Linked DNA regions of Homo sapiens. The protein of the gene in region 3 purifies or fractionates together with the protein of the main gene of each other region. This does not show direct contact. Each region holds a gene or a part of one and is shown on either strand. Other genes may lie near its edges.

Region 1 (3,658 bases), on a different chromosome or scaffold from region 3:
TGTATAGGCTGAGAAATGAAAAAAATTATCAGTTGACTGGTTATTATGATAGTAATTGAATTGTCACGGAATAGCTGTTTTAAAGATGAGAAATTGGTACAATCCCTTGGATGGAAAAATTTAAAAACTGCAGTTTATTTGTTCCAGAAATATTTTAGTGTGCTTAGATGATCGGGTGTTAAATACTGACACAATTGTGTAATGGCAAGCAGCCCTTAACCCTTATGGAGCTTACAGTCTAGTGGGGAAGCATAAACAACAACAACAACAAAAACCTATAAAGTATCTAGTGTCTAATCTAGAGTGATAGGAAACGTATATTATACTGTCTGTCCCAATATGTAATAGGAGCTCTTATCCTTGTTTTAGAGCAGTTAAGGAAGTCTTTGTAGGTAGATTTTTTTAAAGCAGGAATTAAAAGGGTGAGCCCAAGCTAGCCAAGCAAAGGTTGGAAGGGACGATGTTAACTAATGCTTTTATTTATTTTTAAAAATGAGTTTACAGTTCTATAGAATGAAATGAAACAATTTTTTTTTCTTTCCAACTTTTAGGTTCAGGGATTACATGTGCAGGTTTGTTACATGGGTAAATTGTGAATCTTGGGGGCTTTAGTGTACAGATTATTTCATCACCTAGGCAATGAGCATAGTAGCAGATAGGTAGTTTTTTGATTTTCAGCCTCCCCCATCCCTACCCTCCACCCTTAAGTAAGCCCCAGTGTGTATTCTTCCCTTGTCTGTGTCCATGTGTACTCAAGGTTTAGCTCCCACTTACTTAAGTGAGAACATGTGGTATTTGGAAATCATTTTTAAAGATCTCAGATGTGGTATGAAACCATATTTAAATCCTTATCACTTTATTTATATTACCTTAAGAATAATCATATTCTTTCCAGCAGTAAAATTAAGAATCCTTTGTATCCTATCTTGGATTGTGATAATTTGTTTAGAATATGGTTTAGAGACTGTGTTAATAATGGAATCATCCTATCTGCAGTTAAGACAAAATCTTGTTTCCATTGTTGATACAGGTTCTCAAAATACTATTTTTGATGCCTTTGTAAGATGGCTTTGTAAAGATGAGCCATTCTTTTATTGTTGACTAGAATTTATATGAGACTTTTTCTTCTACAGATGTGGTCCTTGACCCTGGTTTTCTATTATTTAAAGTATAGCAGTCAAAATAGTTTTATAAATAGTACCAATTTAGAGTGATACCTCCTTAGGATGGTTTCTAGTAGTGACATATTTTTGTTAAAGGACCCATATATTCTGAAGACGTCTCTTTTTATAGAAAAGTTTAAATGAGGTCTTTTTTTTATTAAGGCCTTAGTAAAACATTAAATTCTGAGATTTTATAGTATTTACATGAAATTGAAGAAATCTTGAAATGGGCTTCCTGTTAGTTAACATATACGACTTGGATTATGATAGGTAATGTGAGGTATTTTAAAATAAAAACTAGTTTTCTTTGTTGGGTTTTGTTTTTAATGGTATCTACTACAATACATATTTAACAGTACAGAGATTTTTCAACTCATTCCTGACTCTTCTCTAGATTTTTCAGCATGGCCATACTTGTCTTTTTTTTTTTTTTTTTTTTTTTTTTTTTTCATTTCTCGCCTTTGTACAAATGTCGTTCCTGTTAATAATAGAAGTCACCATATACTCTAGATTGTTGCCTATCAGTGGGTAATAAAATGAGTCAGAATGCTGCAGTCTTGGAGTGGGAATTATCTTACACTTCTCGTTGCCTGGCAAGATCCTTTATATTACTTGTAAGCAAATGCCCTGTCTGAGGATGTAAGAAGGGTCTAATTTGGTAATAGAAGAAAGGGACCTAGTTTCATAAATATCTTCCCAGACTTAAAATTGTTGATTATAAACTGGATTACCTTTTACTTAGTGTTTTCTTAAAACCTTAACACTTTTCTGAAGGTACCTCTTTAAAAAAAAAAGTTTACAGAGAACTTTTAGTTAGAAAGATGTGCAAAGTGTCTCTTTCTTTTACCTCAATGATACTGCTCTTTGGAAGCAAATGATTTAAAGAACAAATTAGCCATTTATAAGATGATATGTAAATTTATTGCTAATAGCAAAAAATTTGTAACAAGCCAACTGTTCAACAATAGAGAAATGCTTACATAAATTATAATACTGTACAATTTCTATTACATGTGTATTCCTACATATATGTTCTTTTATCCGTCAATCATCTTTTTATTAAAGCATGTGAGTGTAAATAGTAGGCATCTGTGCAGCTTCTCCAAATATGCTAATTTGCATATCATTATCTAAGTTCAGTATTTGTGTAAAGATTTATCTTTTAGTGTGAAATCTGTGCAAATCTTATGTGTACATTCACTGAGTTTTGACAAATGCAGATACATGTGTAACTGAACTTATGACTTTCCTTATAGAAACTTCAGAAAGTTCCCTCATACCCCTTATCTCAATCTTGTCACTACCCCTTTTCCCTCAGGCAACCACCATTCTGATGTTTTTTCCACTATAGAATAAGAGTTGCCTGTTTTAGAATTTCATATAAATGCAGTCATACAATATTTAGTCTTTCTGTAAGACTTATTTTGCTCAGCATGTTTTTGATTTTGTAACGTGTATCAGTAGTTTCTTTTTACTGCTGAGTAGATTTCATTATATGAATATGCTGCAGTTTGTGTATCCCTTCAATTGATAGACCCTTAAGCTGATTCCTGTTTTGGCTATTATGAATAAAGTCGCAATGAACATTCTTATAAAATCCTTTTTGTGGACACGGATTTTCTTTCTCTTGGGCAAATACCTAGTATTAGAATCTCTGGGTCTTAGGGTAGGTAAATGTCCGGTTTTATAAGAAACTGCCAACACCTTTCCCCAAAGTATATGTACCATTTTACATTCCCATCAACGATTTTTGATGGTTGCTGTTTGATTTTGCTCTTGTTGCCCAGGCTGTCGTATAATGGTGCGATCTTGGCTCACTGCAACCTCTGCCTCCTCGGTTCAAGCGATTCTCCTGCCTCAGCCTCCTGAGTAGCTGGGATTACAGGCGCCCACCACCACGCCCAGCTAATTTTTGTATTTTTAGTAGAGACGGGGTTTCACCATGTTGACCAGGCTGGTCACGAACTCCTGACCTCAGGTGTTCCATCCACCTCAGTCTCCCAAAGTGCTGGGATTACAGGAGTGACCCACCACGCCTGGCCTTATATATCTTTTATGAAGTTTTGTCCTTTTTTTTTCTACTGGGCACACTTCAGTTTTATTCAGTTTTGTTGGGTTATCTTTTATTATTAAGTTTAAGAGTACTTTATATATTCTGCATACTAGTGCTTTGTGGGATAAATGTGCTAATATTTTCTCCCAGGCTATGAATTACTGATTAATTTTCTTAATGAGAGTCATTTGAATAGAAATTTTAAATTTAATTTATATATTTATTTTATGGTTATTGCTTTCTCTGACTCATCACCTGGATAAGAACTTTTATCTGGCCCCAAGTCATAGAAGTTCTCATACATATCCTATGAAAATCTTTATGATTTTAGCTACATTTTATCAGATGTGACTATATCCACTTCAGTATTCTTATGCTGTGTGTGGCATTTTTCTATTCATTCACTTTCAATCAATCTGCCTTTATATTTAAAGTGTGTCTA
Region 2 (3,658 bases), on a different chromosome or scaffold from region 3:
ACTTCAACCTCCCAAATAGCTAGGACTGTCCATCTCGCTATGTTGCCAAAGGTGGTCTTTAGCCTTTTTTTTTTTTTTTTTGAGATGGAGTCTCACTCTGTCGCCCAGGCTGGAGTGCAGTGGCGCGATCTAGGCTCACTGCAAGCTCCGCCTCCTGGGTTCACGCTATTCTCCTGCCTCAGCCTCCCGAGTAGCTACGACTACAGGCGCCTGCCACCACGCCTGGCTAATTTTTTGTATTTTTAGTAAAGACGGGGTTTCACTGTGTTAGCCAGGATGCTCTCGATCTCCTGACCTTGTGATCCACCTGCCTTGGCCTCCCAAAGTGCTGGGATTACAGGCGTGAGCCACCACGCCCGGTATTTTTTTTTTTTTTTAGATGGAGTTTTGCTCTTGTTGCCCAGGCTGGAGTGCAATGGCACGATCTCGGTTCACTGCAACCTTTGCCTCCTGGGTTCAAGCGATTCTCCTCCTCAGCCTCCCAAGTAGCTGGGATTAAAGGCACCTGCCACCACGCCCCACCAATTTTTTAATATTTTTAGTAGAGATGGGGTTTCACCATGTTGGCTAGGCTGGTTTTGAACTCCTGACCAGTGATCTGCCCGCCTTGGCCTCCCAAAGTGCTAGGATTACAGGCATGAGCCACTGTGCCCAGCCCCAAGGTGGTCTTGAATTCCTGGCCTCAAGTGATCCTCCCCTCAGCCTCCCAAAGCGCTGGGATTACAAGTGTGGGTCAACATGTCCAGCCTAGATGCAGCTTTTATCAGTTTCTTTTGACAGATTTTCATGTGGTAGGTACTGGTTTAACTCATGCAAAGATGAGTAAAGCACTGCCCTTGTTCACAATTCACAGCCCACCAAATAAGATGGTGTGATATCTGTAATAGATGCATGCACAAGAAATATTTTAGAGGAGGACAAAGTGAAAAATTTAGAACAAGATCTTTGATCTCTACTGTTTTTCACAAGGCCATGATTGGGTAATATCTAGAAAATAGGTGTTTTTATGCTGAAATGTAGGCGAAACAAGAGTCGTCTATAAAAAGTATTTTAAAACTGAAATGTAGAAGAGTTGACTGATAAAAAGCAGTGGAGTAGAAGAGAGAAGTGATAGTAATTAGAAGTTGCAAAATAGCAGGAGGTGTGAAAAGAGGTATGAAAATAGAAAAAAGCCATTGCCAAAGTGACAATAGATCACAATCAGTGCAGAGTGTATAAACTGCACAATTGGTTATACTCAGTGATGTGACTCGTATAGGTGTACTTGAGATGTCACTCTAAAATTGGAGTTTATTCTTCATTATGGGTGGAAGCCCAAAAAGCTATCTCAATCTTCAAAACAACAAATCAACATCTGTTTATACAGGATTTGAAATGAGCAAGCATAAAAGAATTGTCTTGGATCCAATACCATTTTGTCTACTTTAACTCAATTCTTTAGGCTCAGAAAAAAACACTTGAAATTCTTTGCATATTGAGTCATCAAAACGCAATGGAGCAGAACCATAAGTACCTGCCTAAACACAGTCCTGAGACAAGTGGTTCAAAAGCTTTGCTACATATTGTAATAACCTGGCAGCTTTAACAAATCTGATGCCTGGGTCTCACAAAGATTCTGATTTAATTGGCTTGGGATGTGGCTTGGATGTTGGAAACTCAACAGCTTCTCAGGTAATCTAAGTGCACAGCCAAACTTAGAACCATACTGACTGACCATGTTTTGTGAAATTCATTTCCACTGAAAGGCAATCATTTAAAGATCCCAAGGATTAATGGAGAGGTGAAAGACTTTTCTGAGTAAATGCAGTTATCTGAACTTTGTGCATCCTTGCAAAAGTGGTAATGCTTTGAATTCATAAATGGCATCATTAGGCTAACCGTAGCTACAAAACTGTCCAAAGCTAAATTAGACAAATGTTTACAATACTGGAGGAAATACATTTCTTTTGATGATGCTGGCTAATTTCTATTATACGGGATCCCAGGTTACATTATTAGCACAGATTGACTTTTCTCCTGTGTTTAAATTAATAGGAACCTTTAAAGCTTCTGGTTATTAGAAAACACTATTATCCTAATTCTCTGAGATGGAAGGGTGAACATAATTCTTTTTTCATTGGCTGTTTCATTTCTGGCTTTTAGGATTTTTTTTTTTTCCCCCAGAGTATTGGATATCTAAGACCAGCAGATAGAGACCTTATTAAGAAAGAGACCACCCTAAAGAAATAAGAGTTGCCCTCCTCACGCCTTCCTGTCCCTCCCTGCCAGGGGGGAAAAAAAAAAAGTAAAAGAAGAAACACAGTTCATTTCAGGGACTAGTTTTATTATCCAATACTCCACCATAGATCTATACTATAGATTAGCGAGTTTATTCAGAATGAAATCATTATTATAAGAGACTTTCGTATGAAGGTTGATTCATTACAAAAAATACATTAATGAACTTTCTCAGAACTTCTTTTCAAATTCAAGCTTTAAACACAACCTGTGTCATGTTAGTGGAAATATCATCTCTGATAATTAGTAGTTTTTTTTGATTAGCCTCTTACTAAAATAAAAAAAAATTCATCCTTGCTACATGTGAACGGTGCATATAAGAAAAAAGTACAAAGCTGACTCAGCACTAGTGATGAAAAAAATGAAGTGATATGTGCTGTGCTGCGTTAAAATATATTTTATTTTTCCCTTATTTGTGCCAGACACTATTCTAAGTACTTGATAAATATTAATTCATTTAACATTAAAGAAGATGATTGATTTTTCTTTCTTTTTGTTTTTTTTGAGATGGAGTCTCACTCTGTCACCAGGCTGGAGTGCAGTGGCACGATTTTGGCTTACTGCAACCTCTGCCTCCCGAGTTCAAGTGATTCTCTTGCCTCAGCCTCCCGAGTAGCTGGGACTACAGGCGTGTGCCAACACACCCAGCTAATTTTTGTATTTTTAGTAGAGATGGGGTTTCACCATGTTGGCCAGAATGGTCTCGATCTCTTGACCTCATGTTCCGCCTGCCTCAGCCTCCCAAAGTGCTGGGATTACAGGCGTGAGCCACCGCGCCCGGCTTTTTTCTTTCTTTCCTTTTTTTGAGACAGGGTCTCGCTCTGCTGCCTAGGCTGGAGTGCAGTGGCATGATCTTGGCTAACTGCAACCTCCACCTCCCAGGTTCAAGTGATTACAGGCGTGAGCCACCGCACCCAGCCTAGATGACTGATTTTCTAGAAGTCAAGAAAATATGCTGAGAAAGCTGCTTCAGATCTGAAAAACTAAGCTTTCAAACTGGCATCCATGTTAGGGTATAAGGTCCTTTATTTCCTTTTTATGAGTCAGGGGCATATTCTAGTGAGAGCAGTTCCCAGTCTTCCCATTTAGATGAGAGTGAAAAACAAGCAATTAGGGTCTGCTAAAGGGTATACCTTCAAGTAGAAGGAAGAAAAGAACTATAAGTAATTCTGGACTTGGGGATTTCTATTTCTAGGATCTTGGCCTTTTGTTGGGGATTAATATCGAATGGAGGCAACGAATCATACTGATTAGGTGGGTGACTGGACTGCCTTAGCTCTGCCATTTACTAAGCTGTATAACCACTTTGGGCAAGTTAAATAACTTTGATGTTTCCTCATCTGTGAAGTGGGGATAATACCTTATTTTAATCTTATTTTTT
Region 3 (3,658 bases):
TTTATTTGTCATAGAATTTTTTGTCTTTTAGCCAGGGCCAACTGAGAAGTATCTGAGTACAGGAAAAATTGCAAAATTATGTTATATATACCTTCACTATCATAGCAGCAATATATATGCACAAAAATGAAAAATTTGTTGACTCTTATAAGAAATAATGCATTACTGAAAATCTATTTGAAGAAAAGCAAAACTTAGGCTTATGTGCAAAGGCTCACTTAAATATGTATTACAGCTTGGCATGGAAGCACATGCTTGTAGTCCCAGTTACTGGGGAGGCTAAGGCAAGAGGTTCACTTGAGACCAGGAGTCTGGGCAGCAGTGAGCTATAATCACTCAACTGCACTCCAGCCTGGGAAACAGAGCAAGACCACCTTTTCCTCAAGTGTGGGTGTGTCTCAAAAAATATGTATTACAATAAAAATTTGGTTTATGTTTTCTAGCTTAGTTTTTAGAAATAGTAAATTCTAAATTAAAGGCAAATGTATAAAGTTATTATGAGAAATTTATTGTTAAAAAGAATCATGTGGTAATATTTCATTTCATTTTTTGTTTGTCTGTTTATTTGTCCGGAGATTCAGGGATCCTTTGAATACTTTAATCAGAGCCTAACACAGTCTAAGAGTCTGAAGTCTCTAAGAGAAATATATGTTCAAGAAAGAAAAAAATAAAACATGAATGAGATAAAAGTAGCAGGTTGTTGATGGTTGGTAAGTTCATCTAGACCAAATATCTAGACCAAATGGACAGACAAGTTTTGTTTTGTATTTATCTTTGTTTTTTCGGCTAGAAAATAATTTTTACCAATACGGGTCTGCTTTCTCCTAAGCCCACACTTAAGAAAGCCCACATTTGAGTTTTCCAATCATAGAAAAGGGAAAAGAAAAAAATATATTTTTCCTAGCTTTTAAAGTATGCTTAAACTAAGCTGCCCCAGGCCAAAATATTGTCCAATACATATAACAATTTACCCAGTGACTTCGACCTAGGCAGTGGCAATGGGCCAGGTGCCAAATGGAAAAAGATAGCAGAGGTCCTAAACCAGGAAAATAAAAGCAAACAAACGAAAACCTTTCAAACTAGCTTCAAGAAATCTCTAGAGTTTTTACCAATCTAGTCACATGGAAAAAGACACCCAATGGACAGCACAACCTTGGGCAGCCCAACATTCACCCAGCACAGTGACGTCACTCACAAGAATAATGATCACTAAAACGTCTTTAAACTGGAGAGAGCAGGGCTCTTAGGTTGTGACAGTGCCTTGTTCATCATTGGGAAGGGGAGAAAAGAGAAAGTGGAGAAGCGAGAGGCCCTGGGAGCCCCTAGAGGCCAGCAGTTCTCTTGATGTTTAATGGGACATAAAATTTAAACCTCCTTTGTAAATGTCTAGAGCAGAATTAATTAGAATGGCCTAGAAATATTAAGAGAGTCAGACTGAATGTTCATTCATATTAGGATAGAATTATTACATATTACCTTTAAATTTTGCAGTCACATTTTTGGTAATTAACTTTGAGAAATTTGTGAAGTGAGGTACAGTGATATTGATGAAGTAATCATCTCTAGCAATAATTTTGCTATTTAGTTCTCTATTGTCCCCTTTGAATTCAGTGGAATTTGTTGACCGGGCTTTGATAGTTCCCGAAGAGTTGTGATTTTATAGCAGGTAAAATAGGTTTCTATTGGATGTCAGTATGATCTGTAGAAGTACTAAGTAATTTCGATTGTACTTATCTAGATTTCTGTTTTTTCAAATATGGTTCATATAAAAAAAGTCACTGAGAGCTGGTACTAATTTCTATAGTAACTATTTCCAGTAGGTATTTTTTCAAAGAAATTAATACAAATGGTAGTATCATGTGGAGACATTTTTGTAAACTTCAGGCTTTAATATAGGTTATTGCTTCTAAACACACACACACACACACACACACACACACACACACAGTGGCATTTGATCTAATAATACTGGCCTACAATAGTATTCTTTATTCCCAAGTTTATACTTCTGGGTTATTAGTATTATCGATTTTATATTATATCTAACTCTTGATTAAAACAATAAGTAAATGATGATAGTCTTTACATGCAATGCCAAAAACAAATTGTTTGCAAATTAAGCAATAATTGATAGGTTTTGTGTAAATAATGTTTATGTAAATCTAAAGCAGTCTCTACTACATAAGGTATGACACATATGTCACTAATTTTTTTGTGCTGGAAACAGAGCTTTCTTTTTTTTCTTCCATTTTTTAAAAATGTCTAATTCCTATTGCATTGGTATGACAGAAACTTCGGTTCTTTTTTTACCTCAATTCCAGAGGATCGTTATCATCAAAAGGAAGTGCAATATTCTCAACCCTGGGTCATTGGTCTGCTTATATGTCCATTGTCTCATCTGCCTAGAGGGGTCTCAAATGAGACTGCCTTCATTCCAGTCCTCCTGGACTCTTTGGGAAATTGCTGATACCTCATGCCATAGGGAAGGTAAATAGGTTTCAGTGAGTTTATCTTTGGACTCCCATGTCTAGATGGACAGCATGGATCATTACTTTTAGGGATCTTCCTGACTCCCTGGACTCTACGATGTAATCTAGCCTCAAGGACTTTCTAGTCTTTATCCTCTAGGTTTCTCTGAGTTCTGCTCAACAAACATGGCACAGAATCTATCCTCTTTATATTCCCTCCCCTCTCACTTCTTTCTTCTTCCCAACCGGGTTGACTGAATGTATTTAACGTCTAGGATCAAAGACTCCCAATGATTTTCTTGATATTTTTTTCCTCAAAAGCACAACTCCTCTATTTTCTTTTTGCCTCAGCAACAAGAAAAAAAAATCTCATGATAGCTGTACAACTTTGCAAATTAACTACTTTCCTACTGTTCTCCATCCTATCTCATCCTCATCTAATCAATGAATTATAAAGCCAACATATAGGCCAGGTGCCATGGCTCACATCTTTAATCACAGCACTTTGGGAGGCTGAGGAGGACAGATCATTTGAGGTCAGGAGTTCAAGACCAGCCTGGCCAACACGGTGAAACCCTGTTTCTACTAAAAATACAAAAAAAATGAGCCAGGTGTGGTGGTGCGTGCCTGTAATCCCAGCTACTCAGGAGGCTGAGGCACTAGAATCACTTGAACCCAGGAGGTGGAAATTGCAGTGAGCCAAGATGGCACCACAGCACTACAGCCTGGGTGACAGAGTGAGACTGTGTATCAAAAAAAAAAAAAAAAATTCCACTATATGTTGGCCAAAAGTGGAGTAGGCAAAGGAATACATATATGTATATATGAAAAAAAAACCCAACATATATTAACATTTCAAAGTTATTATCAAAAATAATTGTGTAAAATTATATTTGTGTTTATTGATAAAACGATTACATCAGCATTCAATTTAAATGTACAGTGGATAGATATGAAAAAGAGATTATTTCTTTTTTGCCAAGTGGTTTTAAAGAACATATGTGAAGAACTTCCCTCCACTAATTATTGACTAGCCTGAAATACCGTTCTTACAGGAAATGCAATATACATATTTGATTTGAATATCAACTTACAGAATGATGTTGTACCCTAAAAACCTCTAATGGTGACCTAAAATTTTGTTGGTTTGTTCCTTTCTTCAGTATCATAAAAAGATACCAAAATTTTGA

What was found.
Region 1: the proteins of PCDH9 (region 3) and TNKS purify together in Homo sapiens (affinity purification with mass spectrometry; one large-scale study listed by BioGRID and IntAct). This does not show direct contact.
Region 2: the proteins of PCDH9 (region 3) and IKBIP purify together in Homo sapiens (affinity purification with mass spectrometry, with the first as the bait; one large-scale study listed by BioGRID). This does not show direct contact.

Annotation. Positions count from the first base shown.
Region 1 is NC_000008.11:9,558,912-9,562,569, forward strand, and holds part of TNKS (poly [ADP-ribose] polymerase tankyrase-1), read left to right. Parts: intron 1-3,658.
Region 2 is NC_000012.12:98,634,647-98,638,304, forward strand, and holds part of IKBIP (inhibitor of nuclear factor kappa-B kinase-interacting protein), read right to left. Parts: intron 1-3,658. UniProt on the Homo sapiens protein: Target of p53/TP53 with pro-apoptotic function.
Region 3 is NC_000013.11:66,625,241-66,628,898, reverse strand, and holds part of PCDH9 (protocadherin-9 isoform 1 precursor), read left to right. Parts: intron 1-3,658.